Linked DNA regions of Homo sapiens: all the other regions are linked to region 2. Evidence: fine-mapped QTL for protein levels in blood plasma. A gene starts in region 2. Each other region holds a variant in brackets. All regions are shown on one strand. Distances are from middle to middle.

What was found. PIP is the chance, under the fine-mapping model, that this variant and not a neighbour inherited with it causes the effect. Protein levels are from antibody-based Olink assays in UK Biobank. Linkage for the fine-mapping came from a reference panel and not from the study's own genotypes, which makes the PIPs less certain.
Region 1: its variant is fine-mapped to the plasma level of the CLSTN3 protein (UK Biobank, PIP above 0.99).
Region 3: its variant is fine-mapped to the plasma level of the CLSTN3 protein (UK Biobank, PIP 0.97).
Region 4: its variant is fine-mapped to the plasma level of the CLSTN3 protein (UK Biobank, PIP above 0.99).

Annotation. Positions count from the first base shown.
Region 1 is chr12:7,111,974-7,120,072 of GRCh38, forward strand. C1RL-AS1 (C1RL antisense RNA 1) reads left to right here. Exons shown (of 12, transcript NR_026947.1): 6 at 34-91; 7 at 3,157-3,246; 8 at 3,413-6,704; 9 at 6,926-7,053; 10 at 7,527-7,580. It also overlaps a transcript of RBP5 not described here and the pseudogene RNU6-485P. Among named protein-coding and RNA genes, the nearest start is that of C1RL, 6.8 kb to the left of the region's middle. RefSeq lists an enhancer at 1,294-1,795. The variant C/T (reference allele first, on the strand shown) is at 3,284.
Region 2 is chr12:7,125,888-7,133,986 of GRCh38, forward strand. It overlaps CLSTN3 (calsyntenin 3), which reads left to right and starts at 4,484. Exons shown (of 18, transcript NM_014718.4): 1 at 4,484-4,825; 2 at 7,137-7,259; 3 at 7,686-7,881. The coding sequence starts at 4,762. RBP5 (retinol binding protein 5) reads right to left here and starts at 3,002. Exons shown (of 4, transcript NM_031491.4): 1 at 2,816-3,002; 2 at 2,353-2,531. The coding sequence starts at 2,888. RefSeq lists silencers at 4,241-4,340, 5,431-5,500 and an enhancer at 4,782-5,283.
Region 3 is chr12:7,154,378-7,162,476 of GRCh38, forward strand. It overlaps CLSTN3 (calsyntenin 3), which reads left to right. Exons shown (of 18, transcript NM_014718.4): 17 at 3,112-3,314; 18 at 3,564-4,568. The coding sequence ends at 3,704. Among named protein-coding and RNA genes, the nearest start is that of CLSTN3, 28 kb to the left of the region's middle. The variant T/TGGGA (reference allele first, on the strand shown) is at 4,910.
Region 4 is chr12:7,067,823-7,075,918 of GRCh38, forward strand. C1S (complement C1s) reads left to right here. Exons shown (of 12, transcript NM_001734.5): 11 at 634-708; 12 at 2,033-3,210. The coding sequence ends at 2,829. Among named protein-coding and RNA genes, the nearest start is that of C1S, 11 kb to the left of the region's middle. The variant G/A (reference allele first, on the strand shown) is at 3,572.

The sequences.
Region 1 (8,099 bases), 14 kb before region 2:
TGGTGACCTGTCACTGTCTCCTATCACCCCTAGATGGGACCGTCTAGTTGCAAGAAAACAAGCTCAGGGCTCCCACTGATTCTACATTACGGTGAGTTGTATAATTATTAATATTTCATTATATATTACAATAACAATAATAATAGAAAGAAAACATGCAATGAATGTAATGTGTTTGAACTATCCTGAAACCATCTCCCTCTGGCCCCATCCCTGGTTTGTGGAAAAACCGTTTTCCATGAAGCCAGTCCCTTGTGCCAAAAAGGGTGGGGACTGCTGGTATAGAGGACAAGGGGGTGGACTCATGGTTACAAGTTTCCTTCATTTCACATGAAGTGGTACAATAGGAACTGAGAAAACTGGAGTTTAGGATGCAGACTAATTCCCAGAGCAGCGGGTCTCCACCCTGTGGTGTGGGAAGACCCACAGGCCCTAAGATCCTTTCACGGGGTCTGTGAGGTAACAAAATGACTTTCATAAAAATACTCAGATGTTCTTTGCTTTTTTCCCTCTCATTCTGTCATGGTATATGGTGGATTTACAGAGGCTACGTGATGTGCAATGATTCATCCGTGGCAGTGAGCGGGATGCGTGCTTGTGTATCTTTGTGATTTAAAATGTTCTCAATTTTGATTTCTAGTACAGTGACTATTAATAGATATACCCTACATAAGCCAAAGCTCTCTGGAGTTCTCAATAATTTTTTAAGGGTATAAAGTTTGAGAACAGTTGCCCTAGGGTGACTACTAGTAGAAAAAAGCAAAGAAGTATAGCTGAAAGGCCGATGTAGAAATGAAAATGGATGTCTGAATTTGGGGGGACTTTTTTCTAATAGGGTAACCTATTAGAAATCATCCTGGTCTGTCTAGAAATGAGGTTTTCCTAGGACATGAGGTTTTCAACACTAAAACCAGTTAAGTTCCCCGACACGCCAGGACAGTTGGTCACCTTATTGCTAACACTTCAATCATTTACTTCAGTTCCCTTTCCCTTACCCAAGTGTCCCTAAAGAGCATAGGCCACCTCTGCTCTATGTTAAGGCCCCCAAGTGCAGGTAAGGGAGCTGGGATTCCTGGCATGCTAAGTAAAGGTAGCAAGCTACCAAATTGTAAGGATACTATGTTTACAAATATAGAAAGCACCCGTGAGAAAAATCTAAAATAACTGCTTCCTATTAGAGTATGGGGTTGTGGATGATTTAAACCATGTTTCTCTGTTTAGTAAAACTTCTTTAATATTATTTAATAACTTTGATAGTTACAAAATAAATGTATCTGAAATTATAATTGTGACCAGATGGTCCTTTCTGAGCCAGACAGGATTAGAGAATGAGGGGATGGATCCTTTAATCGGCATCTTTAATCCACATGATTAATGAAGAAGTTTTTGTCCTTGCATATAAACTTAGGCCAGGCATGGGTCTTTCCAATCTTAGCTGGGCAAACAAGGTTGGGGTGCTCCAGTGACTTTATTTTTGGTTTTATTTTTGAAAATCGTGTTGGTGCTGCCCCCTTCTGTCCTGAAAGGGGAAGGGCAGGACAACAGAAAGTGCCTTGGGGCTTCCTGGCCAGGGAGTTTCTCTGCAGCCTTCATGAGCCCCCAGCATTTAGAGAGGAGCTTGCCCTCTCCTGGAATCCAAACAGCCACAGGAGAGCCCAGGCAGAGGAGTCTGGGGCAGCACGAGCCATTTCTGTCCACAGCTTCCCTGTCTTATCTCTAGATACCTTGCCCTGGGCTGGGACACGTGGGGGCTTTTGTGCCCAGTGCCAGGTGAGGAGGGAGATACAGGAGCGAGGTGAAGAGCAGCAGGGGTGATGAGGCGGCTGAGTCAGCCAGACTGGGACCCTTTGCTTCTGTCTGGCATGGCCAGTGGAGATGTGGACAGCCCAGGGCAGAGGGGTGACCCTAATGGGTCACACTCCTCCACCCCCAAGTTATCTCAGGCTTTCATGTCAGGGCCTTGACTTCCATGCCTTATGGACACCTAGGCAGTCGCTAGCTCAACCCCAATGGAGTGTCAGCCACTAGGTTTAGCCCTTAAGCCCATCCTCCCTACTCTGCCAGTATCTAAAATCTCAATCAATCGTGCCCCTTCCCAGGTTAAAACTTTTCAATGACTGTGCCTCCTGATCCATGAGATGAAGCCCCAGCCACTTGTTTGTCTCGTCAGGTTCTTCCTTCATAATCAGGCTCTGCATGACTTTCTGGCTTCGCTCTCCACCGCTGCCGCCTCGCATGTGTGTTCCAGGCGCGGTCATGATGCTATGGCTTCACAAACATGCCTTGCGTTTGCATGTGTGACTCCCCGACCAATGCCGTGTTCTTCAGTCATCAGCATAACATGCTGCTTAAAGGAGTGGGCTTGTGTGCCACACTCACCAGGTTTAAACCCAGGCTCTACCATTTAAAAGTTTGGTGACCAAGGCCAGCTTACATAATTTCTCTGTGCCTCTTAACATCCTCATCTGAAGAACAAGGATGAGGACAACGGTACCCACACCAGAGGGTTGGTGTGAGGGTTAAATGAGTTAATAACCAGAATTGCTTAGGGCAGTGTCTGTCATTTGGCAAACAATAAATATCATTACTTGCTTAGGAAGCAGAATAGAATAGCAAAATGGTTAGATCAGTGGTACTCAACAAGGAGCAGTTTTGCTCCCCAGGGGATATTTGATGATATCTAGAGATTTCTTTTTTCCATTACTGGCATTTAGTGGATACAGGCCAGTGATGCTGGTAAGCATCCTAGTGCACAAGGCAGCAGGTCCCACAACAAAATGTTACCTGGTCCTGAACGTCAATAGGGGCGAGGTGGAGAAACTGAGGGTTGGGTGGTCAGGCTCCAATCTGTTTGGGTTCAAATCCCATCTCTGTCTTTTATTTCATGTATAACCTTTGGCAAATTACTTAAAATTCTCTGTTCCTTAGTTTTCTTATCTGTAGAATGGGGACAATAACCTGTGCTTGGGTTCCTGAGAAGAGTCAGCGTTCGGCATGTAGTACTCATGCCCTGGATGCCGGCCATTTTTACTCACCTCTCTCCCCGTGTCCTCTCCTCTGGGAAGCCCTCTTTGACTCAGAGAAAATGACTTTCCCTGTGCTCATGGACTCTTGATGCATGATAACCTCCTGCCCGTGTGTCTGTCTTTCCCACAGGGCTGTGGGTTCCTTGAGGGAGGAATTTTGTCCTGCAGGCTGTGGCAGCCCTAGGACTCAGCACATCTAGGTGTCCACCTGCGTCTGTGGGTGAGTTCTTGGGATGGGGCAGAGTGGGGAGTATGCA[C/T]CAGGTTTTGGAGTTTTCAAGGTGTGCAGGGAGGAAGAGAAGCAGGTGGTAGACAGGTGCATCTGGGAGATGGGGTTGGGTAGAGTTTGAGGGTCTGAACACGGCCCTGCCCCATTTACTATTCTCTAGTGAGAAGCCTGATCATTGCCACGTGACCGCCTCCTCACTGTTGGTACCTGGTTGTAGAGAGCAGCTCTGTGAGTAGAAGGAGAAGGATCCTGCCCTGGAGAGGGCCTGGCTGGTCCTCACCTGGGGCCTATCATTTAGTAACAGGGCTTCTGGAAGTGGTAGCAGATCTGGGCCTGGTGGGCATTCTGCTTCTCCTGGGTGGCAGCAGAAGTCCCTAGGTGGCAGGCTGGGGACTGCCCAAAGGTTCTGACTCAGGAAGAGCACAGTGGAACAGAAAGCCCTTGTACCACCTTCGCTGCTGTATTCGTCCATTCTCACACTGCTGTACAGAACTACCTGAGACTGGGGAATTCATGAAGAGAAGAAGTTTAATTGACTCACAGTTCTGCGGGCTTAACAGGAAGCATGACTGGGAGGCCTCAGGAAGCTTATAATCATGGCAGAAGGCGAAGGGGAAGCAAGGACCTTCTTCACATGGCAGCAGGAGAAAGAGAAGAAGGGAGAAGTCTACACACTTTTAAACAACCAGATCTCATGAGAATTCCATCGGGAGACAGCACTAGGGGGATGGCACTAAACCATTAGAAACTGCCCCCATGATCCAATCACCTCTCACCAGGCCCCTCCTCCAACACGTGGGGATTACAATTCCACATGAGATTTGGTTGGGGACATAGAGCCAAATCCTATCAGCTGGTATCCTCCTTTTTCCAGGCTTTAGATATGGCACAACCTGATGGCTTCTGCATAAAGCCTCCTCTCATCTGCATCTCTCCACCTCACTCACCCTCTTTTCAGCAAAGAACCCTCTGGCTCTAGTTTCACTGTGGTGGTCCTGGGAGAGGTAGAGAAGACCCAGAGGCTCCTTACCCTGGGAGGTCAAACTGACCATCCAGGTTTGGCTCTTCCCTGCTGGTGTGTCTAGAACACCATCTTCCCCTTATTGCTGTGGACTTCAGGGCTCTGCTGCTCTGTCCTCCACAGAACTTGTCAATCAGCTTCCTACCAGCTAAGATCTGGTGCTGTCTGATATATCCTCCCTGCGGCTTGTCACTCATGCTGTCTAATGGCGTGAGGTGCATTGAGTTGTATTCTGATGTCTTTGTCCTTTTGAAGCCACAGAGTAAGGTCACACAACTTTGAAACGAGCAGGGTACCATCTGAAGATGCTGGACATTCCTTTTAACAATTACCTAGGGGAGAGGCAGTCCTCAGACAGGACTCAGGTGGGTGGGCCTCAAAGAGGAAGGGAAAGGGGGCAGCTGCCTGCCTCTGAACTTCACTCTCTAGACTCGTGGAAGGGTCTAGCTTAGAGCTAGGATGGGAGGGCTGTGAGCACTGAGGATGGAGTCATGCCTTTTTGTGACTGGACACATTTTTACTGCCCGAAGTCATCTACTGCCCCCACCCCCCAACCCCATTCTTCTGCCCACTTAGCGAATATTGAGGTTATGGTCAGGATGGGGTCATTTGCAATGAAATTCAAGGTTGAGACTATGTTGCAGTTATCTGTCTGCTTGTAAAAAGTCACCCCCACATTTTGTTTAAAACAGCAAGTATGTACTATTTCACACAGTTTCTGTGGGTCAGGAATCCAGAAGCGGCTGAGATGGGTAGTTTAGGATCAGGGTCTCTCACAAGGCTTTGGTCCAGGTGCAGGCTGCAGTCCTCCAGAGGCGGGACTGGGGCTGGAGGTCTGCTTCCAGACGGTCACTCACATGGATGTGGGCAGGCGGCCTCAGTTCCCTGCCACATGGCCCTCCTCATAGGACGCTTGAGTGTCCTCGCGGCATAGCAGCTGGCTTTCCCCAGAGTGACCCAAGGTGGAAAGAACAAGGCAGAGGTGACAGTGTCTTTTATAAGCCAGCCTTGGAAGTGACGTAGCATCATTTCTGCCTTATTCCATTGGTCACACAGACAACCCGATGTGGAAGGAGACATCACAAGGACAGGAATACTGGGAAGCAGGTATTGTTGGTGGCTGTCTCGGACGCTGGTTCTCATAGAAGTAGATGTATTATTTTAGTACAATAAGTGCAGACGATCAGCTAGCAGGATGTTATTTTTGCTGGGTATGGTTGTATTTCAGGTGCATTTACCCAAATCCAGAGTACCTTTGGGGGCTCTGACCCTCTCCTCCTCCACCTTGAGATCTGTAGAGGCCTCTCGTTCATCCCACCAAGAGCAGGACTGGACAGATGAAAGCATGGCTTACAGGAGGCCAACACAATAGGAGGTAGGGCTTTGGGAAGACAGCATAGGTTTCAAAAGAACCAAGAAGCTGTTGAAAAGGAGAGCAGATGGGCAGGGAAGACAAGTCCCAGATAGAATGCCCTTTGCAACCTAGGGGGAGCTGACCACAGTGTGCATCCTGACACTCGAAGACAAGGTCTCCATCAGCAGATTGCCCAACAGAACAAGTTCAGAGCCCAGAGATCCCAGTTCCAGATCTCAGATCTCCCACACCCTGTGGGCTCTGTGTGGACTTTCGTCCTGAAACAAAGTCCTTTAGTAAAGGACTCTTTAAATTCACTCCATCTGTGCTTTGCTTGCCAATAGCAGGGTGCGTCTGTTACATACTGGACTATCCCTTCCTTCAATATGTTCATGGCTGAGGCTGCATTTGTGCCTCAGATAATCAAGGTGAGTATAACTCTCTGTTCTGTTTCCCTTTTGTTTCCTCCAAGACTTTAATAAACCCTCATTCAAGAGGCCCACCTTGTCCCACCTGTGCTTCTCAGAAAAGAAGGAGTGGTGGGGAGACAGGCTGGGGTGGGGGCTTTGCCACCTGGCTGCCCCTTCACCTGTGGGTTCTTGCTCCAATGAGGACCCAGCAGGATAAGCTTTAGTTTCATTAAGGGTGACAATAGTTTCCTTACAGCTGGGTCAAGGATATGAGCGAGCCTCTTCCGAAAACAGCCGGGAAGGGAGAGGAATCCAAGAGGAGGAGCAGGTGGGAAAGACAAGACAGAAGGTGGATCGGGACCAGGCCTGGGAGGGAGCACAGGCACACAGAAGTGAAAGAATTCGCCTGAGGTTACACGACTCCTCGAGCGGTGCCTTTAGCTCTGCATTGTGCCACCTGCCTGGGTCAAGGAAGATGCCACCGCTGTTGTTCTGTGTACAGAGAGGGAAAGGAAGATGCTGGCTCTCAGCAGTTCTATAGAACAGAGGATGGAGAGGCCACACGACAATAGGCACACGCACCGTACATTGAAGAAGTGCATGCAAGACAGAATCGTGTGGGATATGCACACTTGCGTGGAAGAAAAACTGTTCCATTCACATTGAGGTAGACCCTCCATCTATGACTCATCTGTAGGGCAGGGGTGTGGGCACATACTGAGGCATGAATGGAGGGGAAGCTGGAGCTCTGCTGGTGTAGAAAGGCGATGGGATATGCTCGCTTCAGCAGCACATATACTCAAATTGGAAGGATACAGAAGAGATTAGCATGGCCCCTGTGCAAGGATGATATGCAAATTCATGAAGTGTTTTTAAAAATCATTTTAGAAGAAGAAGAAGAAGAGGAGGAGGAGGAGGAGGAAGAAGAAAGATGGTGAGATATCCTGCAGGAGACCAGGGCCAGGAGGGTGGAGGCCTCTCAAGAAGAGGGAAGCATGAGGAAGCTCCAGGGCAGGGTGAGGGCGCTGGTTCCTGTATTCAGCTGTCATAGGGAGGAGGGGAGTAGCTGGGAGGGTTAAGGGAGAGTGGCAGTACCTGCAGCTGGTGGCTGGGGAGTCCAGGTCTGGGATGTGGCCTCTGCTGCTGGTGCCCGGCACCTTGAATGAGATAGCAGTACGTACTGTGGGGGATGGGGGGGGGTCCCAAGGGCTGGGGGGTAGGGGTGGATGGAGCTGATGACTGTGCAGCCATCACTGCAGTGGCACTGGGCTGGGCAGCTGTCCCTGCGTCATCCCTTTTCTCCTGCATTGAAGCCTTCTCTCCATGGGTGGGAAGGCTAGAGTGGCTATTGCAGCAGGGGCTCTGGAGGGCAATGCTGTCCCGGGGAGCCCAGGCACCCTTCTCTGGGGATGGGGGGTGGGGTGCAATGAGAGACTCTGGATATGGATCCCTTAGGGAGGCAACTCCCCTTCATCCTTGTCACCCCCAGATGGTTTACCTGCCTGGACAGCAAGATGATGGCTACACTAGCCCCCATTCTCTGGTATGTGTCACTTACACTTCGGTGTAAATATGTCACTGTGTAACCTCAAGGGTAGTGGCACTTGATGCCTTGTCCTTAACTGAAGAACACAAGGCTTTGCTTCTAGTTAAGAGAATTTCAATCATCAGGTGAAGAGGCAGGGAATAGTGCAAGTAATGATAGCCAGCATCTGTCAGGGCGCACTCCACTCCAGGTCCTCTGCTGAGTGTGCATGCAATCTTCACAAAATTCCCAGCAGGAAGGAAATACTCTTGGTGTTGCCTTGTGGGCTGGCCAATGTGGCTCATCTGCTGAAGGCTGGCGATTTGTATATACTCCTGCAGCTAGTAATAGGTGGCATTTCATGCCTGGCCACTATGCAGCACTGCCTCCCAATTTTGGGTGGCATTTTAGGTTCCTCTAGAGCCTCTGAGGCAAGTGATTTGTCCATGAACCCAATGGCCTGGCTATGCTGGTGACCTTCTGCTTGGGCACTGCCCACGGGGAACAGAACAGAGGCTCTGAGAGCTGCCTCCTCTC
Region 2 (8,099 bases):
TATGTTTTAAGTAGACCCTGTGGCTACAGCATGCAGATTAGAGGAGGGTTAAGCGTGAGAACCAGCTGGGTGCAGTGGCTTAGGCCCGTAATCTCAGCATTTGGGAGGCTGAGGCGGGAGAATCACTTGAAGTCAAGAGTTTGAGACCAGCCTGGGCAACACAGTGAGACCCCACCTCTACCAAAAAAAAAAAAACACAAAAACACAAAAAAGCAATTTCAGGCACCAGGAAATGAAGGCCTGAATTAGGGTGGTGATAGAGAAAGGTTAGGAGGGAACACAGGAGAGCCATTTAGAAGAGTGATGCTCAACAGAAATAAAATGGGTCAGGAGCCATATTAGAAAAGTAAAGAGAAATAGGGGAAATTAATTTAAATAATATATTTTAGTTAACCAAAAATATTCAAAATATTATTATTTCGGCATGCAGCCAATATAAACATTTCCGAAATGCTTCTTTTTATTTGGCATTGTCTGAAAGTCCACTTACAGCATCTAGATTTGGACTAGTTATATTTCAAGTATTCAACGGCCATCTGAAGTTAGCAGCTGCTATACTGGGTAATGCAGAAAAGCTACAAAGATTTCTTGGCCGATTAGATGTGGTGGTGGTGGTGGTGGTGGTGTGTGTGTGTGTGTGTGTGTGTGTGTGTGTGTGTGTGTGTGTGTGTGCTGGGAGCCTAGAGGTAAGGAAACAAGAGATATTGACCATGACTCCCAGGTCTCTGGCCTGGCTGGTTATTGCCATTAGTGGAGAGAGTAGATATAAAAGTGGGGTAGGTTTGGATAGGAAGACAGTGAATTTGAATTTGACCTTGGCATTCAAATGGAAATTGGTTCCAGGACCCCCACCTCACTAAATCTGCTGAATAAAATGGCTTAGTATCTGTAGAGAAACTACATACATCCCCCTGTGTACTTTATTATTATCATTTTGATACAGAGTCTTGCTCTGTCACCCAGACTAGAATGCAATGGCATGATCTTGGCTCACTGCAACCTCTGGCTCCCGGGTTCAAGTAATTCTCCTGCCTCAGCCTCCCAAGTAGCTGGGATTACAGGCATGCGCCACCATGCCCGGCTAATTTTTGTACTTTTGTATTTTTTTTTTTTTTTTTTTTTGAGATAGAATTTCGCTCTTGTTGCCCAGGCTGGAGTGCAGTGGTGCGATCTTGGCTCACTGCAACCTCTGCCTCCCAGGTTCAAGTGATTCTTCTGCCTCAGCCTCCTGAGTAGCTGGGATTACAGGCATGCGCCACCATGCCTGCCTAATTTTTTGTATTTTTAGTAGAGATGGGGTTTCTCCATGTTGGTCAGGCTGGTCTCGAACTCTTGACCTCAGGTGATCCGCCCGCCTTGGCCTCCCAAAGTACTGGGATTACAGGTGTGAGCCACTGCACCTGGCCTAATTTATGTATTTTTAGTAGAGATGAGGTTTCACCATGTTGGCCAGGCTGGTCTTGAACTCCTGGCCTCAAGTGATCTGCCTGCCTCAGCCTCCCAAAGTCTTGGGATTATGGGTGTGAGCCACCACGCCCAGCCTTTTCCCATATGCTTTAAATCATCTCTAGATTACTTATAATACCTAATGCAATGTACATGCTCTGTAAATAGTTGCTATACTGTATTGTTTTTTATTTGTATCATTTTGTATTGTTATTTTTTATTTTTATTTTTCCCAAATATTTTTCCATTTGCAGTTTGCTGAAGCTGTGGATGCAGAACCCATGAATATGGAGGGCCAACTGTATTTTGTAGGCAGTTGAAAACATTGCCCTGGAGCTCAGGAGATGGCTCTGGCTGGAGAATTCATGCCAAGGGCAGCCTATAGATGGAAGCAGAAGGCATGGGTGTAGATGATTTAGCCTATGGATAGTGGGCAGACAAAAGGGAGAAGACATTAAGAACAAAACTCTGCGGAGAAAACTCCAGTTTAAAGGATTAATAGGAGGACTAGGATCTGCAAAGGAGGCTAAGAAGGAATATGTAAGAAGTAGAAAGAAATGCAGGAGAGTGAAGTTATTGATGCTAAAGTAAAAGGGACTCTGGGTGACCAACAGTGTCACAGGCTGGAGGGTGGGCAAATGTTTGCTCTTCGGTCTGGGTTGGCCTGTTCTTTGCCCTTTGGGCTGGTGATAAGAGGGGGCAGGGAAGAAGTGGGAGAGAGACAGGGAGCACCAGGACCTGTTAGTTCTGGAGACTGGTATCCTGGGGACTGCATTCCCTGCTGTGGTGACCATTCCCCTCCTCCCCGCTGCTCTGGCTGGGGAAGGTCACTTTGTTTTGCCCCATGTTGTTAGGAGTCTCCTGTGATGCCTCCTTCCGGCCACCGCCCAGCCAGGGGAAATGTACCTGGCATTTTCGTCCGTCCACGCTCCTGAGGTCCTCCTCAAACTCCACTCCCACATCAAACTGCACAGTGTAGTTTCGGAAGGTGCTGAGCGTCCTCACCGTCATGTGGTTGCCCTGGTGTTCGATCTCCTTGTCCGGCTTCAGCAGCAGCGCGATCTTCCGCACAGCCAAGCTGATGTCTGTGGGGGCTGCCTGTTAGTAGGGGTGCTGCTAGCCAGCCAGGAGCTCCTCTGCCTGCAGCAGCCCCTCAGGGCTGTGAGTTTCCCTTCTTTGGGTCTGGGACTGTGGATTCACCCCCTCCTACCAATGCCTGGTTAGAAATGGATCCCAGGTCTGGTGCCAGCCGCCTGAGCCTTTCCACAGTGTCCAACCCCGGGCATTCCCTCTTCTCCATGGGACCAAGAAGCAGGAAGGAAGAGGGGAGAAAGGGAGTGACAGGGGTCTGGGAGGGCGAGGCCATTACTTAGGGCTTGCAGGTAGTCCTCCATGTTCTTCTGCGAGACAAAGCGGTAGTAGCCAGTGAGGTTGGGAGGCATTGTGTGGATGAAGGTTTCAGGAGAATGCAGGAGACAGGGTGAGGAAGGAGGGGGTGTTGTCTGGCAGGTGAGGCTGAGAGATTCCAGCCAGCTCCACACACAGAGACAGGATGTGTAATGGCCGGGTTACCAGGGCTTTTTATAAGGCTGGGGCCCTGTTGCAATAAGAGTCCCTACCAGACTTCTTCCCTCCCCGCATGGTGAGTTTGGGGGTGGTGTCTCCAGCCTGAAGGAGGGGCAGGGATTTGGCAAAGTTGCGCCTGACCTTGGCTTTTCCTGAGGAAGGAACCTGGAGCAGGATCCTTCCTGAGGAAGGAACCTGGAGCAGGATCTGGGGCTGTCAGTCATCCAAAACTCAGCCATCCAAAGGTCAGTGTTGGCCTCCACCTCATTTCTGGCAGGCTTGGGAACCGTCCCAGGGCCTGAGGGGCAGTCTTTCCTGGGAGACACCTGAGGCTGGTCTGGCTGTGTGAGGTGGAGATGAGTTCCAACAATATCCTGAGATCCTGGGACTGAGTGATGTTGGAAGATGTGAGGGGAGGGGGTGAGGATGGCCAGCTGCCACCATGAAGAGCACCCTGTAGGCCTGGCTCTCAGAGCTCCCTCAGGTAGTGTGCTCAACTGGGACCCCAAAGTGGCATTCCAGACTCTTGGTCCTAAAGAGCCATTAGGAGGGAGGTGGAGCCCGAGGGGTGCTGAGTTCAAAGTCCGGAACAGACAGCCTGAGAGGAGTTTGTTGGCTATTCTGGAGAATTTTATTCTTTTTGGCTTGGGACCCAGGGGGTTTTCTCTCCCTCTGAGTCATCGATGAGACCGTAACCCCCAGTCCCCAGCCCTAGGACAGCCCATGCTTTCCAGATGTATTTCTGTGAAGGTGGGGTGGAGGCGCCTAAATAATATTGTGCCCCGCCCCCAGCTGCCCAATTCTCTCTCGAACCTGCCATCGTCCCGGGCTTCAGAATCCACTGGGCTTGGTTCATCATGGTTTAAGGTGAAATTCGGGGCGAAGGAGGCAGGACAGGTAGGCAGGAGGAGGCGGCCGGTCCCGACAGGTGCGTGCGCGAGGGGTGCACGACGTCCTGCCCCTCCTTGGGTCCCAGAGCCTCGATACCGCCCTGCGGACCGCCCTGTGGCTTCCTCGCAGCCCTGGGCTACAAATGCCAGGATTTCTCAGGCTCAGACTGAGGGTTTTACTTCACCCTTCCCAGAGGGCACGCAGCACGGATCTGTGGATGGAAGGGGCTGTGGAAACAGGTTATGGCAGAGTTGGGGGGCGGGGTGACGCGGTGCCACCCCTCCTGGCCGCCCTCAGGTCCCGCTGACGTCTCTCTTCCCCACCCCCTGGCTTCTGGCTTCTTTCTCCCCACGTCCCTCTTCTTTCCCACCCCCTCCGTGGCTCTCCAGCTTCCTCCCCAGCCCCCGCAGTTCCTCGGCTCCCCCAAAATTGCAGCCAGGGGAAGGAGCCTTGAAACTCTCCAGCCCCGACGCCCCAGTCTCATTGGCTCCCTCCCCCGCTGCAGCACCTGGTCCCCCCCCCTCCCAGTCACCTGATTGGCCGGCGGCCCCATCAATCGTTGCCCGGCTGTGCTGACGTCATCCTGCAGTAGCGGGGTTGGGGTGGGAGTGAGAGAGTGAGGACGCTGGGCTGGGGGAAACGGGAAGCCGCTGCAAGTCCACCGCCTCAGCTACCCAGATTGGGATCTGCCCAGGCCCGCTTTATGGACTAGTGTGGGCGGCAGGCTCCTTTCCGTCCCTGCCCTGCTGTACCCCGCTCCTTGGAGACCCCCTGTATCCCTCCCGCAAGGTGGAATCCGCAGGCTGGAGGCTCCCAGGGGAGGCAAACGCCTGGCCCTGCCCTGCCCCACGCCGCACCATGACCCTCCTGCTGCTGCCCCTTCTGCTGGCCTCTCTGCTCGCGTCCTGCTCCTGTAACAAAGGTGAGTGAGGTGGGGGTGGGGGTACCGAAAGAGGGGCGTCGGGCAGCGCCGTGCGGGGTGGGGGTGGGAAGGAGGTGTCGAGGCTCCCTGGCACCTGACAGGTGTCTGGCCCTCTTCTGATCACCCTCCTTCCCATCCGTTCTCAGACCTGCTCCGTCTCCTCTCTTTCTCTTCCCCCAGCTACATCTTCCTTTCTGGTCCATCTCTACCCATGCGTTTCTCTTGCTGGTCATCTTGCTCCCATTTGGTCTCCATTCCCGTCCTGGGGTCTCTATTCTCCCCTTCCCCTAATTTCTACACGCTGGTGGCTACCTCGGGTCTGGGAAGGACTGCCCCCGAGCCGGTGATAGGCCTCTCCCCGCGGCTCTCCCTTTCACTGGCGCATGCTAAGGGTGTGTGGCAGATCCATCTGCTTCGCCTCCATCCCATCCTGGGGAGAAAGTATTTGCTGCAGTTCAGCAATTCGGAGCACGTATGTTTTTTGCGTGTGCCTCTGCATTCAGACCCTTTTGCCTGCATCAGCTGGGCTGTGGGTTACCAGAGCTGCCCTCTCTGGCAGACAGCGGATACATTCAGCTGGGCGGGGCTGTCGGACAGACGGAGAGGGAGGACGGGAGGGAGGGCTTGCGGGCAGAGGGCTCAGGTAGGTGGAAACGGATGGAGACTGGCAGGAAAGGGCAGAAGTGGGTGTGTGGGGGGCGCTAAATGAGTATGAGAGGGAAAGCTGAGAAGGAGAAGACCGGAGATGAGGCGTGGGAGGGGGTAAGGAGGGGATGGAAAAGGGTAAAGGTGGAGGCAGAAAAAAGAGGGAGGAATGAGGAAAATCAGGAAAAGAGTGAGTCAAGGAGGAGCCCGGGAGCCTAGGAGTGAAAGGGAGCAAACGCAGAGACCGCAGGGGGCCAGGAGGAGAGGAGACAGAGGCTCAGAGACCTGGGAAGACAAGCAGGGTGGGAGGGGGAGCTGTGCAGAGGGCGCCCAGCCCTGCCCTTCCACCGCTCTCTCTTCCTTGCCTGCATCTCTGACCTCAGCCTCGCCTCCTAGCCTCCTGCCACTTCCTGTACCGCCTCCTGTGCACCATCTTGTGGCTTTCTCCTCAGCATTCAGGAAGGGGTTATGGTGGTCATCAGTAAGAAAGCCTTCCCATGCCAAAGGCTTGCTGGTGTGTGGTTGGAGGAAAGAATGGAAATCAGGGTTTCTTGCTCACCGTGAGATACTGGGGATGAGGTTCCTTTTGGTGACTCAGTTTCCCTCTGCCTCATGATTGTGCTTTGGGAGCCTGGGTGTTGGCATGATGATGGGATTAGAGCAAGCGTGGAGGCTGGGGTGGGGGGTGATGTGGAAGGGGAGGAAATATGCTTCCCCACAGCCCCTCACCAGGCTGAATCTGGTAGAAGATGGGGAGATTTGGAGTCTGATGAGTCCCGCATCCATTCTGAATTGGCTGGTGGTTGAAGGGAAGAGGGATGGGGTAGATAAGAACTGGGATTGAGTTCTGTATAAAAAGTGGGTTTCAGGGAATGTGGTTTGATGGTCTTGTGGAGGACATAGAAATGTGTCGGTTTCGAATGTGTTCTCTTGGGTGTGGGGGTGGGAAGCAGGGACGGGATTTGTCATGTTTCTAGGCCAGCCCGATAATCCCTTAGGATGACGGCTCTGCTGGGTCCAGTTGCTCAGCATTGATTCCTCTGCTCCATTCCTGCCCCTCTCTGCCCCCTCCCTCTGTCCTATATATCTTCACTTCTCTCCTTTCTCCCCATCCTGTGTTCTGGGAGAGTGGCCTCAAGTTGGGGCTTGGCTGGGAGAAGTGCAGAGTGAAGGGATCAGGACTGAAATGAGTTGGGAGGAGGATAAGCAATCAGGATCTCAGGAAACTTCTAGATCTTTTTCTAGTTTCAATTCTGCCCTTAATCTATCCCTTCCCTTTCCCAGGGCCTTCTCACAGCCCACCACTGCTCCCTGAAGTTCCCTGTCTCCATTCTCTAGCACGTGAAATCGCTAAAGAACATTCTCCACTTCCTGACCATGGTTCCCATGGAGATAGTGATCCCCTCCTCTTCACCCCCAGGGCAGGTTGTTTCCATGGGAACTGTCTACCCTGCTATAGGAGAAGGCTATGACCTCCCGCAGACCCTCTGACTCCTTTAGTAGCTGATTTCTTGTCCTCAACCACCCGCCTCCTGTAAGGTGCTCCTATAGGGGGTGGAAAAGGTGATGGTGCTGGGGTGTGAGTTGTCTGGGTCAACAAGGGTTGTTGTGGGAGTAGAGGCCCTGCTCACAGGTGCTTCCTCTCCTCTCCCTGGGGTGGGGCCAGCCAACAAGCACAAGCCATGGATTGAGGCAGAGTACCAGGGCATCGTCATGGAGAATGACAACACGGTCCTACTGAATCCACCACTCTTTGCCTTGGACAAGGATGCCCCGCTGCGCTATGCAGGTAATTGGGATTGGGGGATGGCAAGGCAGGGTAGGACAGAGAAAAGTGGGTGGGAGGGCCAAGAGCAAGGGAGGGAGGGAAGGTCCTGGGAGTGATGAGAAAGTAAGGGAAGATAAAAGTGGGCTCAAGGAGGGGAATGGTCTCCACTGAAGAATGGAGATTGAGTCAAGGATGCCAGAAAAGGACATGGCCAGGCAAGGGTTAAACACATCATGATTTTGTCAGATCTCAGGTCTGGAGGCTCTGGGAGGTTGCTGCTCAGGGAAGCTGGGCTTAGAGTTGCGTGTTTGATCATTAATGCTTTTGTGCCTACAGGAGAAGGGACAGGGCTTTGGGAGGAGAGGTGGAGCTGGACCCCAGGTGGGGAGACTGAGGGTGGGGAAGGAGACACAGCAGCCTCACTCCTCCCCTTCTCCCCTTTGCCAGGTGAGATCTGCGGCTTCCGGCTCCATGGGTCTGGGGTGCCCTTTGAGGCTGTGATCCTTGACAAGGCGACAGGAGAGGGGCTGATCCGGGCCAAGGAGCCTGTGGACTGCGAGGCCCAGAAGGAACACACCTTCACCATCCAGGCCTATGACTGTGGCGAGGGCCCCGACGGGGCCAACACCAAGAAGTCCCACAAGTGAGGAAGTCCTTGTCTCCTGCCCCATGTGTTGCAGGGTCCTCCTCCCTGCTCCCAAGCCCACCATCCTCTGTCCGTGCGGTCATCGAATATCCACCCCCACCCGCTGCTGTTCCTAGGACTTAGGGAGCCCCATCCCCTGCTGTTCCTAGGATTTAGGGACTTTCAGGCAAGGTGACAGAAACGTATAGTAGAGTTCAGTGGATCTAATCTTGGCT
Region 3 (8,099 bases), 28 kb after region 2:
ACTGGAACAGTCAGGGGAGATTTTGTGGCACATGTAGAGTTTGCATTTGGACCTGAACTGTAAAAGGGATTTTTGGATGGGTGTGAGAGAGAATGGGAATTTGAGAACCGGGGGTAGATAGGTGGTTAAGAGTGTTTATGGTTAGAGAGAATAAGGTTGGTTGAGAAGAGCAAGCCGGATGATGAGGGTATTATGTATCTACTCATATCAAATTTTGATGACTGCCAGAATCACCTGGGGAGCTTTAAAAACTCTCGGCACCTAAATTATACCCTAGAATGTCTAGGGGGTGGGAGCCACGTGTCAGTGGTTTTTAAAAATCCCATGTAATCTTTAAAAGTTTGGGAATAATTTTCCTCTTTTGTTTCCTACAAGTATCTGAAGCTTTGCAGAAAGAGTTACAAAGCAATAGGACAAAAAGAAAATGAATGAGGAAGTAAGGAGGAACAGGTAATGATGAAATAAGGATCCAATGAAGCCAGGGAATAAAGTCAGCTCATAACATGCGTACTATGAGATGCTATGCAGTTGCTACCACGGGCCAGAATTTTGACCCTGAGCTTCTTCAAAGCTAAAGCAAAAGGAAACCTGAGCAGTTCTGAGAGCCGTGATAGGAGCCAAACGCTATTTCATGAAAAGCCCTGGGAGTGCGGGGGGCAGAAAGAAATCTCTCCCAAGGCTCTTTGCAAAGAGAGCACCGTGTGGGGCCATGGACAGGGCTTTCCACTGTCCTCGCAATCCCATGGACCATTTGCTAAGTCACCCCTTAATGTTGGCTCTGGAGGTCATTCAAGGCCAGAATTAACTGCTCAGATCTCATGTAGCAAGAAAAGCTGAACGCACTTCTTAAATTCTTGATTTTTATCTGTAGCTGATTTAAAAATCCTCCCATCTCCCCGGGCTCCTGACTCATCTTAAACTAATTAACCAGACTTGTTTGCTTGTAGATAGAGTGTCTGCATTTTGTCTTTCCTGTGGTCATTTCTTATTGTCCTGGCAATCAACTTGTCATTTCCTTCATTAGGCCAGGAGCTCGGAGGGACACTGCATTGATTAGGGCGCAAACCAGCTTTAGCTCGTCATCGTTGTGTGCTTAGAGGAAGTTCACCTGCTTTGGCCTCCACTCTGAGGGTGGGGTCACCACCCCTTCTGGAGCCTGGGCTTAGCCACTGGGCCCATCTGCCAGTGAAGGCACTGCCCCTGGCTCTGGTCTGTTGACGTGGAGACCTGAGAGACACTATTTCCTGCAGATGGGCAGGAGAGACAGCTCTGTCCCCTCCTCCCTTATCCCCCGTTCCCAGGAAGTTGAGAAATACTGATCCAGCCAGTCCTGTCTTCACCTTGGAACCAGTGTCGAGGGAGTGTGCCCCAGCAGAGTCCGTTCTAATTGGCTGGTGGCCTCAAGTGGGCTGTGGGTCAGGATGGGGACCAACTTGGCAGACAGCCATCAGGGTGGCCTCAGGGAGGTGTGTGGCCTGCCCAGGCAGGGCATTCTCCACACACCTAGTTGGCCCTGGAGTGCGTGGCAGCTGAGTGTGCTGGCTGCTGGGGAGAGGGGCGCTGCAGCAGGGTGTGGGTGTGAGTGTGAGGAGCTCCTGGGCCATGCGCTTCCCTACGCTCTGCTCTGTCTGTTGACACATGAGTCTCAGGCTGTAGGTAATTTGCGGACGGGGCTGGAATGCGATGTGTGTATTTTTCTAGGGGCTTGCTTGTGTGACTGCTGGTCTCTGTGTGTGTTTGGGGCACACATACATGGAATAGTCCCTCAGCAACGGGACCGCCCAGGGAGGAGCTGCTGTGTATGCATGGTGGGCAGGGGTGTGCACCCATGTGGGGAGTAGTGACCCAGCTGCCCGTAAGGGCCCTGGGCCTGGAGGTGCGTGTGTGGGGTCTCTGCCTCCACCTGCTGTCCCTGGGGCTGCGGGCTTTCCTGCTTTTCTTCCTTGTGCTTCTTCGAGAGCTGTGTGTGTGTGTGCAGGAGGCAGGCAGGGCTGTGCTCATGGCGGCTCGCTCTGTGGCCCTCACGGCCCACGTCTGTAGTGTCTATGTCTTCCTTCAGGGGGTTGCCTGGTCTGCCCAGCTGGTGGGGAGCTGGGTGATGCTGCACATATGGCTCTACCGTGCCTTGCTGGAGACCCCCAGACGCGTTCCTTTACTCCCGCAGTGTGAGCAGGCGGCCAGGTGGCTGGTGTGGGCCAGCATGCAGGCTGGCAAAGGCCTGGCTCGGGTGTGGGGCGTGGCAACCTTTGTGCAGCTGTGTGCCCACACGGTCTTCCTGAGCATGTACCTGTGCATGCACATCTGCTTTGCCGCCATCAGCTCTAAGGTCCGTGTGAGAGTGAACGCACCGTTCTGTGTCTCAGTGCCCTTGAAGGTCCATGCCCCTCTGAGCCTGGGCATCAAAGTGGGGCTGCAGGGCCAGAAGCATGGGAGAGCCACGGGGGAGGCAGGTATGCCTCAGGGGGAGATGTTGGGGAAGCAGGAACCCCAGACGTCCCGGAGCCCCAAGCCCACCAGGAGAAGGGAGGTGTCACGGAGTGAGCTCAGTCCAGGTGGGTAAGGGAAGGGGCTGCTCTGTGCCCCTTGGACTTGTCCCCAGCCTCAGGTGCTAGTGCCCTCTTCCTGCAGCCAGCCCAGGCCTGGAGCCTGCATCTCCTCCTGCTCAGCCAAGCCCGTGTGGGGGCCCCTCCTCTCCCTCACTGGGCACTGGCACCTCTTTCCTAGGCTGAGTGGTCTCTGGGGAAGGCACAGGTGGAATGACAGGGGCAGATTCCAGTCCTTGCCCTCTGTCCTCTGCGAATAGGGCTGTTCATGACAGTGTTGGGCAGGGAGTCTTTTTCCTCCTCTGCCCTTGCCTCTCTGTACACCTGCCTCCCTCTGTGTTTGTTCCTTTGCCTTGCAGCAGCTCCCTTCCTCCCCTTTCGTCTCCTGCCCTTCCTGGTGGGCTGTTTCTCTTCTGGCTTCTCCAGGTGTTCCTCTCTTCTCGGCCACCGTGTGTTCTGCCCTGGGAGTCCTTCAGCCCGGGCTGCCTCTTTTCCTACCCAGCCCCCTGTCCAAGTGCCCCCAGGTGTGCCTAGTCACGCTCTGCTCACCCCCGCGCTCTCTCTGCAGTGATACCCAGCGCCGCAACCCTCATCATTGTGGTGTGCGTGGGCTTCCTGGTGCTCATGGTCGTCCTGGGCCTGGTGCGCATCCATTCCCTTCACCGCCGCGTCTCAGGGGCCGGCGGGCCTCCAGGGGCCTCCAGTGACCCCAAGGACCCAGACCTCTTCTGGGATGACTCAGCTCTCACCATCATTGTGAACCCCATGGAGGTGAGAGGCCTGGGGAAGCGGGGTTCTGTAGGGTCAAGACTGTGGAGCACACACGGTGAGGACTCCTGAGGAGGGGCAGGCCTGGGTGGAGGCTGTTCGCAGAGCTGCAGTGAGCCGGAGGGAGAGAGGTTCAGGCAGGGAAGGGGGTACACAGGGGTTAAGGGGACCGAGGGAAGTGTGGTCCCTGAAAGAGAGGCTGGGATGTGTGCAGGCCATTGATCCCTTCTCCTCTCTGTTCCTGCCCTCCAGTCCTACCAGAATCGGCAGTCCTGTGTGACGGGGGCTGTTGGGGGCCAGCAGGAGGATGAGGACAGCAGTGACTCGGAGGTGGCCGATTCCCCCAGCAGCGACGAGAGACGCATCATCGAGACCCCCCCACACCGCTACTAAGGCCTACACCTCTCCCCACGCAGAGGGGGAATTCTGCCCTGGTGAAACAGACACTCCAGACATGGGAGAAGGACTTTCTGGGAACACAGAGACCAAGAGGGAGAGAGGCTTCAGAACCAGTCCTCCTTTCATTTCAAAACCCCAGCGGGCCCTCTGGAGTCCGCCCTGCCCCTCCCCCGGCCCCCCATCCCTCACTTCTGGGCTGTCATGCTCCTGGTGTGCCCCTTGCACTGGGGCTGGCTGGGTTGGAAAGTGGGCTGGACTTCAGCTGCCTTTCTACCCCCAATGGCAGCTGCCCCCTTAGCACTCACTGTGTTGGGGAGAGGGTGACGATTGCAATGGCTGGGGCTGGGGCTGGGGGTGGGATTGAAGGAAACCCTCTCCTCTCCCCTTCCCTTCTCTCTCCTGTCCATGGGAAGCTTTTCCCCCTCTGCAGGGCTCCCTCAGCTGGACCATCGTCCCTGCTTCTCTTATGATCGCCCCACCTCATTTCCATTTCAGTCTGGGGACCCCATTTCTCCCTCCTTTCCAACTTCCTTCCTTTCTTGTCCTGTTTCCCTTCCTGCCCTTGCAGTCCTGAGGTCCTGCAGCCCCGGCCCCTCCTCCGTGACCTGGTGTGGCCAGGCTGCGGGGACGGGAGGGGACGTGGGGGCCCCGGGTGTACATATATAATGTATATTTTTTCAATGTTGTCGTGAGTGCAGCCCATGTTCCTGCGTGCAGCTCACGGCCTTGTGTGTATGTGTGTGTGTGTGTGTGTGTGAGGCATCGTCATGTCCTGGGGCAGGGGCGGGGGGTTGGGTGTGGTGAGGGAGGGGACATATCCTAGGGTTTTCAAATAAAACAATCAGAAAAAAAAAAAAAGCTCTGTGAGGCGCCTCCTGACTGCCTGGTCCTGTGTGGGTGTGGTGGAGGCTCTGGGGCCTCAGGGGCTGTTTGGGTCTCTGCACAGAGCTGAAGTGAGGTGGGCAGGGCTGGTGATCTTGGGGGCCTGACCAGGTAAGTCCCCAGGATGCCAGATCACCTGGAAAGTAAGCTGGGGGCAGATGGTTCCCACGCCTCCCTTCCTTCAGCACCCCCTGGAAAAGTACAGAAGATTCAGGGAATGCTATGGACACCTGGGCAGATGCCCAGTGCCTTGCAGGGGTGCTGCCAACCCCGCCCCACAACTTGGAACATTTTGCCTGTGCACATGGGCTCCCTGC[T/TGGGA]GGGCGGCCCCAGGGAGAAGGCAGGCAACCCTGCTGTTTGTACCAAAGGGATCTGGAGACTGTTCCCAGGCTGACCCTTTCCTGCTAGCCAAGGCTCAGACCCAGGGGATGTCTGCCTGCCTTGCCCATGTCCTTGTGGCTGCCTCACATGGCTGCTTAGTGGCCTCCGCCCTCTCCACTCGGGCCCAGCCCCTGGCCTGACAGCAGGCAGAGTCTGGCCCTTCTGCAGCCTTTTGGGCCACTAGTTCTCTGACCCAGGTCTTACTTAAGCCCCAGGTGATAAAGGATGATAACCCCAAGGGGTTATTTCAGAAGAGTGAACTGCTGGTGGGAGCATCCCTCTGGTGCTGTCCTGGCCCAAGAAATACCAGGGATCCAAGTCTTAGTTCCTTCCTGCAGCATGACAGAGTAGGGCATCCTTAGGCTCTTCCTGGTTCTCTGCGGCTGCCTGTAGCACAGTTGGGGTGGAGGTGGGTGCTCCGCCTGACGCCCGTTCTGACATCCACCGGGTGCCTTGTCCTTGCCCATGGCCGCAAACTCCCAGTTGCATGTTGATGCCTCCATATTTTTATCTCCCACCTGAATCTCTCTCCTAACTCACATTTGCAACTACCTATTGGCATATCCACCTGCCCTTCCTGTGCCTCAGACTCCACCTTTCCCCGACTTCTCTGTGACCTATCCCTATCACCTTTCACCCATTCGCCTATGCCAGAAATCTGAGAGTCAGTCTAGATTCCTCCCTCTCCCTCAACCCCATGGCCAAATGGTGATGAAACCCTGTCGTTCTTACCCCTTAAAAATCTCTCCAATAGGTCTTTTGCTTTCTATTCCCCTTATTGCTGCCGCCGCCTTGACCTGTACCCTCTGTGTTTTTGCCTGGTCTGTGGCAAGAGCCTCCCACCTGCCTCCCACCTGCCTCCCACCTGTCCTCCCACCTGTCCTCCCACCTCTCCTCCCACCTGCCTCCCACCTGTCCTCCCGCCTGCCTCCCACCTGCCTCCCACCTCTCCTCCCACCTGCCTCCCACCTGTCCTCCCACCTGCCTCCCACCTGCCTCCCACCTGCCTCGCACCTGCCTTCCACCTGTCCTCGTCTCCTATGCCTTGCTCTACTCCACCCCGTCCTCAACTCTGGATCTCAGTGGCCTTTCTCAAGTGCAACTCTGGTTGGACCACTCTCCGGTAGAGCAACTTTCCTACCTCCTTGTCAGGCCTAGGTCAAGTCCTGACGCCTTAGCCCCTTAACCAGGTGGGGCAGGTCCTGCCTTCCTCCTTCTCTGGCCTCTTTGCGGCCACCACCCCTGCACCCCTGCGGTGGGGTCACAGAAATCACATATGCTTCCCACACACACCCTGCTTTCTCGCCTCTGTGTCTGCATGTACTGTTCCCTCTGCCTGGCATGTCCCTTACCCATTGTGTGCCTGGCAGTCTTCTACTATCACTGAAGACCCGGTTCAAGAGTTGCCTCTACCAGGAGTTCTGCTGTGCTCTGGGAGCCCTTATTCACGCCTCCATGATGGTATTGACTACAAAGCTGAGGGACATGTCTGTCTCTCCACAGATTCTCTGTATCCCCAGCAACTTGCACAGGGCCTGGCACACAGTAGGGGCTCAGTCAGTGGTGACTGAGGTGATGTGTATGGCTCTCAGACTCAGGGAAGACTCACTGGTAGGAAGAGAGAGGAGAGCTCCGTTGGTGGCCCATGGCATGGGAGGTCCAAGGCTGAGCATGGCCAAGCAGACGCCCTGTAGTGGCCTCTCCTGTAGTCTAGGTCTGCCTAGATGCCAAGCTGATGTTCTGGGGTCTGAGGCAATACTGCATAGGAGACCGCCTTGCCTGTCTACCTAGAGTCTTCCAGAGGCTCAAAAGGTCACAGACTTCAGACATCTGAGAGCTTTGGCTCTCAAAGGGGCTTGAGAGTTTTTATTAATAGTTTGTGGTCCTGAATTTCAGTGGGTGAAGTTCAGCCCCCTCCTCCTTCTTGTCATCGTCTTAGTCCTCACCTACCCTGTCTCGGAGATGCAGCTTCCCATGAAGAGGAGCAGAAGCCAAGCAGGTTCTATTATTTTTGTGTGTGTCCTTGACACTTGAGGCTCGGGGGTCCTTATTCACTTCTAGCTCAAGTCTCAGGGATAGGGGCTGTGGGTAAGAAGGCAAGCTTGCCATGAACTCTGCTTCCCTCTTGATGCACACGCCCCTGCAGACTGCCACAAAGTAGCATATGTCCTTCTCTTAGTGTCTGCCCAGCCTCGGCCTGACTCTTGGCCTTCCTGGATCAGCTGCCTCTGGGGCTGGACATGGGTTTTTCTCTTAAATGCAACCACTCTACCTGAGATTCCTGGAAACTCTCCAGAATCAGAAGCCCTCACCTCTGATTATTTCTTCTGGTGTAACCTTTCCCGGCCCTCCTCTTCACCCTCAGTGTTTGATGCCCAAGTCTTGGCCCATGGTTAGCACATCTCCCCATGTGACTACTGGGCCCATCGAGATGTTACCTGGGGTGGGGGTATACATGGGCACCAGAGGCCTGGGGAAGACCATGAATTCCTTGTGCCACCACATGCCCTGAACTTCTGCTGTCACTCGCTGACTTCCCTCCCTCTCTCAATCTCTGCCTGTCTCTGACACACACACTCGCACACACACTAAACAGGGATCAGGCTTGAGGCAGGAGGCCAGCTCCAGTGACGCAGGGAAAGGGCAGCAGGCAGGATTCTGCATGGGTTTTTATTTTGTTGCTCAAGATCTCCTGGAAAGATGTTTCCTAACCTCCCTCAAAGAAGCTGGCAAAGCCTGGGGCTATCAGGCCCGGGGCAGGGTTTCCAATTCACCTATTCCCAATTTCATTTGAAACAGCAAACACATTTGCCTTGGCATCACTCAAACCGTTCTTTCTGCAATGGAAGGCTGTTTTCCTCTCAAGTCTACTCTCCGCAATGACAATTAATTAGCTTCTCTAAAGGTGCATGATGAAAAGCATGCCCTCGGGGAAAAGCGATGCTCTAGAGGCAACTGGGTTAACCACCAGTTCAAGAACAAAGTGTGTCCTTCTTCCTGTTACCAAACCAGAGTCCTGGAAACTCGCTTTTGTGCCGTCAGAGCAGCTGGACACAAATGCACTGGCGGTGGGCAGAGGTGTGGCTCTACCCACTTTCAAAGTCTGCACTCCACCCTGCAGCCTTTGGG
Region 4 (8,096 bases), 58 kb before region 2:
GGTGGATAGCATAATCTGTGCCAGAGACAGAGTTTGGAGACAAATGAAGGCGATAGGACAGACATTGTTCATCCCCTTGGCTTCGTCCAAAGATACAGTTTTCATCTGGAGCAGGGCAAGTTCAGGGGAGCATCAGCCTCAGGGAATCATAGAGGTCACCAACTGAGTTCACAGCTGCAGCAGGAATTCCCCTACAACATCCATTTCATGGGATTACCCACCTTTTGACCAGTTATTTCATGTAAAACCCACAGGAGCAATGCCTTCAGCTTTAAGCCACCAAACTACACTGACTGGCTTTCTTGATGTAGAGGCTTTGGTCATGCTAGGTGCAGGGCTGAATGAGACCCTAATACGTTCTCTGCATTGCTCTGTATTTATTTCGCCACTTTCCCGATGCCTTCTTTCCTTCTGCTTTGGAGATGTTCCCTTTGTCTCCCTGGCAGGCTAGAGGCCTGAGGGATTGTTTGGAGGAAGATATTTTTTTTCTGGCTGATTTAATCTGATTTACTACTTGAATCCTAGACGAGCTGAGGTTCTGAAGGAACGGGGCAGGGTGTTGGGGTCGGAGGGGGGAATGGAAGAAGGAAGATGTGGTGGTGAGTGTGGCCTGTGTTCTCTGTGCTATTCCAGGGGAGTATCACTGTGCTGGTAACGGGAGCTGGGTGAATGAGGTGCTGGGCCCGGAGCTGCCGAAATGTGTTCCAGGTAAGGAGGGCTGAGGCTTGGGGAGAGATGATAGCCATGGGTGACTGGGAGTCACCTTCTGAAAGCAACTGTAATCCTCTTGGGAAAGGACTGAACAGTGACCTGCCAGAGTCCAGCTCAGTGAGGTGGCAGTATCACTGTGCCGTGGGCTGCCAGGGCCGTGGGGAACCTCCTCAGCCGCACTGAAGCCAGGCCAACTGGAAGGAAATAGAAACGTCAGCCAGCGACAGTTGGTGTCTGGTAATGTAGCTGCAGTGAGAAGATACAGAACTGCTAAAAACAGGGCCTGAAAGCTGAGAGTGTGTGAGTAATCAACACTCAGAAACAAGTCTAGCTAAATAGCCTAGTTATTATATTAAAAGTTTATAGGGCAGCAAGATATAGAGGAATTCAAAGAATGAGGAAGATAAGAGTTGGGTAGCAGAAGGCTGAGGCAAATCCAATAGGATAATAACCATCCTGGGTGGTACTGAAAGCTGAAGACTGAGCTGATTTGTTGCATTTATTATCTCATTCGTGTCCGTATAACAGCCCTGTGAGCTAGGTGTCATTGGTCTTATCTGACCAATGTCAAATGTGAATGGGTGGGGTGCAAGTTCACAGAGTTAGCAAGTGGCAAAGGCAGGCTTTGAGCCCAGGTCTGTCTAAGTTCACAGCCCATTGTGCTCAACTTGGAGTCCCTCCAGGCTGTCTAGTAAGGGATTTAAGTAAGCAGCTTCACTTGAATTCAGTTATTAGTATAACTGAATGGTAATGGCACCAGTCACTGGGAGTGAGAGGTCAGGGCCAAAGAAGGGACCCCTCTCTACTTCCTAGGCTGACCTGTGGTTTACTAGGAGGGACTCAGGTGCAACTAGGACTCCAGTAAAGAAGGTGATTAAAGTTTGATCTGGGCATCTGAAGAAGGCAGAAATCTTTCCTCCTCCACCATCTGTGTGAGAAAAGGGTTTCCAGCACTGGCTCTTGATTGGGCACCGGCCTCATGTGCCGAGTTGGGAGGTGCAAAGGGGACCCCTGCCTCCAGGGGGGCTGTGGGTCGCACTGTGGATAGTGTGAGGCATTAGTGCATCTGGACTCAGTGATTCACACACTGCCTCCGTTTAACTGAGCTCTCCCATGAGCCAGCTTATGACATCGGCAAAGCGGGATGTTTAGGTAAGGCCAGAGTGGGTCAGGTATTGAGATTGTTGACCAAATAGGGTTGACTATTTTGTACTAGAGAATCCTGCAACCTAGCAGGTAACATTATGTGAGTGGTTGGAGGATTTGCAGGAAGCCAGCATCATTTCTTCCTCCTTCCCTGTGTTGTTTTATTCCTTCCTAGTCTGTGGAGTCCCCAGAGAACCCTTTGAAGAAAAACAGAGGATAATTGGAGGATCCGATGCAGATATTAAAAACTTCCCCTGGCAAGTCTTCTTTGACAACCCATGGGCTGGTGGAGCGCTCATTAATGAGTACTGGGTGCTGACGGCTGCTCATGTTGTGGAGGGAAACAGGGAGCCAACAATGTATGTTGGGTCCACCTCAGTGCAGACCTCACGGCTGGCAAAATCCAAGATGCTCACTCCTGAGCATGTGTTTATTCATCCGGGATGGAAGCTGCTGGAAGTCCCAGAAGGACGAACCAATTTTGATAATGACATTGCACTGGTGCGGCTGAAAGACCCAGTGAAAATGGGACCCACCGTCTCTCCCATCTGCCTACCAGGCACCTCTTCCGACTACAACCTCATGGATGGGGACCTGGGACTGATCTCAGGCTGGGGCCGAACAGAGAAGAGAGATCGTGCTGTTCGCCTCAAGGCGGCAAGGTTACCTGTAGCTCCTTTAAGAAAATGCAAAGAAGTGAAAGTGGAGAAACCCACAGCAGATGCAGAGGCCTATGTTTTCACTCCTAACATGATCTGTGCTGGAGGAGAGAAGGGCATGGATAGCTGTAAAGGGGACAGTGGTGGGGCCTTTGCTGTACAGGATCCCAATGACAAGACCAAATTCTACGCAGCTGGCCTGGTGTCCTGGGGGCCCCAGTGTGGGACCTATGGGCTCTACACACGGGTAAAGAACTATGTTGACTGGATAATGAAGACTATGCAGGAAAATAGCACCCCCCGTGAGGACTAATCCAGATACATCCCACCAGCCTCTCCAAGGGTGGTGACCAATGCATTACCTTCTGTTCCTTATGATATTCTCATTATTTCATCATGACTGAAAGAAGACACGAGCGAATGATTTAAATAGAACTTGATTGTTGAGACGCCTTGCTAGAGGTAGAGTTTGATCATAGAATTGTGCTGGTCATACATTTGTGGTCTGACTCCTTGGGGTCCTTTCCCCGGAGTACCTATTGTAGATAACACTATGGGTGGGGCACTCCTTTCTTGCACTATTCCACAGGGATACCTTAATTCTTTGTTTCCTCTTTACCTGTTCAAAATTCCATTTACTTGATCATTCTCAGTATCCACTGTCTATGTACAATAAAGGATGTTTATAAGCAAATTTTGTGTGACTTACCTCATTCCACACCAAACCCTCAGAATTATAGAAGGGGAATGGGATGAGAAGGCTGTTATGTCACTGAAATTGGGCATCCAGCAACTAATATTTAATTTAATTGTCACGAAAACAGGGAATTCAGCTTTTCTTCTCTCTTCCAAATGAGATTTACTGAATATTGTGGGTTAGTATGAAGATCGCCAGTGTAAGGCATCACATTCTGCTTTTGAAACTCATTAATATTTACCTGGCCAAAAAAAAAAAAAAAAAAAAAAGAAGAAAAGAAAAATAAGAAAAAAAAGAAGCTCATTAAATGTCATGTGGTGCGTGGCTCACACCTGTGATCCCAACACTTTGGGAGGCA[G/A]GGGTGGGAGGATTGCTTGAGCCCAGGGATTCAAGACCAGTGTGAGCAACATAGGGAGACCCTGTCTCTACAAAAATAAAAAATAAAAATTAGCTAGGCATGATGGTGCGTGCCTTAGTCCCAGCTACTCAGGAGGCTGAGTTGGGAGGATCGCTTGAGCCCAGGAGGTCAAGGTTGCAGTGATCATGCCACTGTACTCCAGCCTGGGCAACCAGAGTGAGACATTATCTGGAACAAAGCAAAATAAAAAAACCCCACCTCATTCAGAAATCCATGTACAATAGTTTGAGTTGGCTGTTTAAGATCTTCTTTAAGTAGAAATTGTTTCAATATGTGAACGGAAAGTTAATTTTCCTCTAATACTCATTGTATCATGCAATATTATGACAACAAAAAAGAAAAACTAAAGAAATTGAGCATGCTCTTGTCTGCTTTCCTGGTGGTTTTAATCAATTTGTGACAATGTTTTCATTAGACTGAACTCTGTACCAAGATGACATAGCAGAAAATCTCGGTAAGGATGGACCCCAAAACTCTCCCTTCTATTTTCTAGGGGAAGGAAAAGAAAAGATTCCTCTTCCAAAAGAATGATTAGTGATGAGAAATGACTACAGAATAGAGACTTAGCATTTTAAAAACTGAGGACAGGACAACTATCTTAGGACAGCGGTTGCCCTAACAGGGCGTCTTAGGAAAGCGGAGGTCTGAGAGGAAGAGCTGAGGGGGAATCTGACCTATTTGATGTGACACGTGGCTTTCAGGAGGGCAGTTTTTACTAGAAGCCAAAAAAGGTTGGTTTGGGCCCATCAAGAATGGACTTTGATATTCCATAGACCAAGAGGGCTAAATTCAACAGTTGACCTTAGACCGCAGGGTAAACGTGATGAGGTAACCAGAGGAACTCTAATTGAAGGGCCTGAAGAATTGAAGGGAATTACAACAGGGAGTCCCTGGGAGGATTATATGGTCAACCAAGCAGCATAAAGTCACTGTGTCACTCCTGAACTGTATGCCTCATAGCCACCTCCTCACCCTTCCTGTCATTGCAGGAGCAATGGAGTTGACAGTGTGCCCTGGGTGAGAGTGTTTCCGTGAGAGGAGGATTCTTCTAGAGATAAAAAGGCATTGGAGGAATATTAAGATTTAGAAACATGGTCTGTGAAAGGGATATTGTTCTTCTTTTTTTATACTTGGGGCAATAGCAAAAAATTAACCTGGAATCTGACAAGTAACAGAAAAAGGAAGTTCATCCCTCTCGGAGAATCACCAGTCTATTTGGGTTCTGCCCTTGCTGATGGGCTGAGGTATTGGTGAAGAATTTCCCTCTTTGCTGCCACCTTGTACGGCATGACGGGAATGGGCTTTGCATCGTTGACTGTGCTGCAAGGTCATTTCTCTGGGTGAATGGCAGGGAGAAGACCTAAATGAATCATGATCAGAGACTTCAGAGCTGGGAAGAGCTTGTCATCAGGTCCTAGAGGGGCTAGAAAGTCATTCATTGTGTTTAAAGGGTATCCATCGTAGTACCTTGCAAGTTACTTGGGAACATATGTCCGCTTCATCTGAAACTCAGGAAAAGAGTTAGCTTTTTGAAGAAGGTGAATTGTCACTTTTCTTTGGTCAGAAGAAAATGGACTGGTGGGTCAGCAACTCATGCCAGGGAGGAAAGACAATGTCCGGTGGTCAAGAGGGCTTGAACCTACTTGAAACTGGACCAGCCCAGAAGGGGCTAGAAGGGATCCTGGGACTCTAAAGTTTCCTTTACAGTGACTGCTAGAATCAGAAACATATTCAGTGGAAATGTGACTTTTTTCCTGCATATTGGTTATTATTTTAAAAATTGAAAATATGATGTGAGGCGTGGTGACTCACACCTGTAATCCCAGCACTTTGGGAGGCCAGGGAGGATGGATCACATGAGGTCAGGAGTTTGAGAGCAGCCTGACCAACACAGTGAAACCTTGTCTCTACTAAAAATACAAAAATTAGCCAGGTGTGGTGGCAGGTGCTTGTAATCCCAGCTACTCGGGAGGCTGAGGCAGGAGAATCGCTTGAACCTGGTATTGCAGTGAGCCGAGATGGCACCACTGCATTCCAGCCTGGGCAGCAGAGTGAGATTCCGTCTCACACACACACACACACACACACACACACACACACACACACACACGGACACAACACAGCTTTATTTAATCTTGATCAGATCCACAAACTCTGCCATGGTTTTTAAAATAATGATTTAACAAAACCCTTTTTCTTTTGACATATTCACAAGAAGTTGCAAAGTTAGTACAGAGAGGCGCTATTTCCCCTAATGGCTACATCTTAGGTAACTACAGTACAATATCTAAACCAGGAAACTCATGTTGGTACAATGTGCAAGGGCAGTTTTGTGTTATTTTACTACATTGGAGACTCATGTGAGCACCTCTGCAGTCAAGATACGAAACAATTCCATCACTACCAAGATTTCCCTCTTGCTACGTTTTGTACTCACATCCTTTTTTATTTTCTCTTACAATCATAAAAAGACACATTGGAAAGATCCAGCTTCTCTCATTTGTCCTAAGAGGAAATTGATTTTGGGTATGTCCACCCTTGAACCAGAGAAAAGCAGAGACTGGACATATTGAGGGAGATGAAGTTGTGGTAACAGGAACCACAACGGGGGAACCCCCCCCCCCCAGAGCAAAACCTACAGGGAAAGTCTCTGATGGACCTAGTTTCCTGAATGGAAGCATCTGTTTTAAAAAAAATCTCTCTTCCTCTATAAGGGACTACAAAGAACACAGAAGACCTGCAGCTGCCAGGAAGGAGCTCATTCTGATTGTAACCATTGTGTTCTGCCTCATCTCCAAATGGGCTGTTTGCATTGTGTATCTATCTCCCTTTAGGTTTAATGTGGAAACAAATCATTTCTTTTGTCTTCATTGCTTAAGGACTGAGTGTGAAATATTTTTGGCATAATATGCTCAGGTTTTTCTGGGCATCTGCCTATTCATGGATAAAATGAAAATGTTTCTTGATCTCTCTTAGACAGAAAGCAAGAAGAACTTAAGGTTTTTAACAGAAAAAATAAAAGAGGATGGCTAGAATAAAAATCCACAGAAATAGGGCCGGGCGCTATGGCTCATGCCTATAATCCCAGCACTTTGGGAGGCCGAGGCGGGCGGATCATGAGGTCGGGAGATTGAGATCATCTTGGCTAACACGGTGAAACCCCGTCTCTACTAAAAATACAAAATTAGCCGGGCGTCATGGCGGGCACCTGTAGTCCCAGCTATTCAGCAAGCTGAGGCAGAAGAATCATTTGAACCTGGGAGGCAGAGGTTGCAGTGAGCCTAGATCACGCCACCGCACTCCAGCCTGCGTGACAGAGCGAGCCTCTGTCTCAAAAAAAAAAAAATCACAGAAATAAAAATTCACAGAATAAAAATGCACGGAAGCAGGGATGAAAGCAAAAAAAGCACCTGAGCACCTAGTTGGGGGAGAAGTCAGGACAGCAGAGAAGAATCCTGGGGCCACTGCAGGTGAGTGTGTCAGATCTGAGTAGGACTGAAGAAGACCTAAAAGGGAGAATTTGGCCTTCTCATAGGGCCAAGCAGAGGCCGGTTGTGTGGGGCAGGGCTGACCCCAAAAGGCTTGACAGAGACCCCCGAGGAGAGGTTTTGGAAAACACTGAACACCTAGGTTGGACCTAGATGAACTTTACCTGCTCTGCCACATAATTGTGATACAATTTATGTAGAATTTTTTTCCAGCAATTTACGAAGTTGTCTCGAGTTTGCCTTAAGTGGCCCTAAGCCTTTCAGGTCTCTTTTCCCGGTCCTTGGTGGCTTGCCTCCGTTTTGGTGTCCTGTGTTGTCCTCACTGTCATCATCTATCCTCTGAAAATATGATTTTTTTTTCCTGCATGCCTGTTATTTTCCTTCCTTCCTTCCTTCCCTTCCCTTCTTCCCTCCCTCCTTCTGTTCCTTCCTCTCTCTCTCTCTCTCTTTCTTTTAGACGGGGTCGCACTCTGTTGCCCACGCTGGAGTACAGTGGCATAATGACAGCTTACTGTAGCCCCAAACTCCTGGGTTTAAGGAGTCCTCCCACCTCAGCCTCCTGAGACACTGAGACTACAGTCATGCACTACCACACCTGGCTAATTTTTAATTTTTTTGTAGAGACAGGGTCTCGCTATGTTGCCCAGGCTGGTCTTGAACTCTTGGCCTCAAGCAATCTTCTCTCCATGGTCTCCCAAAGTGATGGGATTGTAGGGATGAGCCACCACATCTGGCTCTTCTTTGGTTTCAATATGCTCACTTGACGTAATAAAACCCTGCTTCCTGTGTGCCTGAATGGTACGGCTGCTAGTGGCTAGGGGAAAACACACAAGCTCACACAACTGTCTCAAAAAAGGTGAGAATGTCTCACAAAAGAACAACTGTCTCCCTTTTAACTGTTGGCCATGAATCTCAAATGAACCCTTCATGCTCCCAGGCAATCAAAATTCCCTAATCCATTCTCAATCCCACTGTCC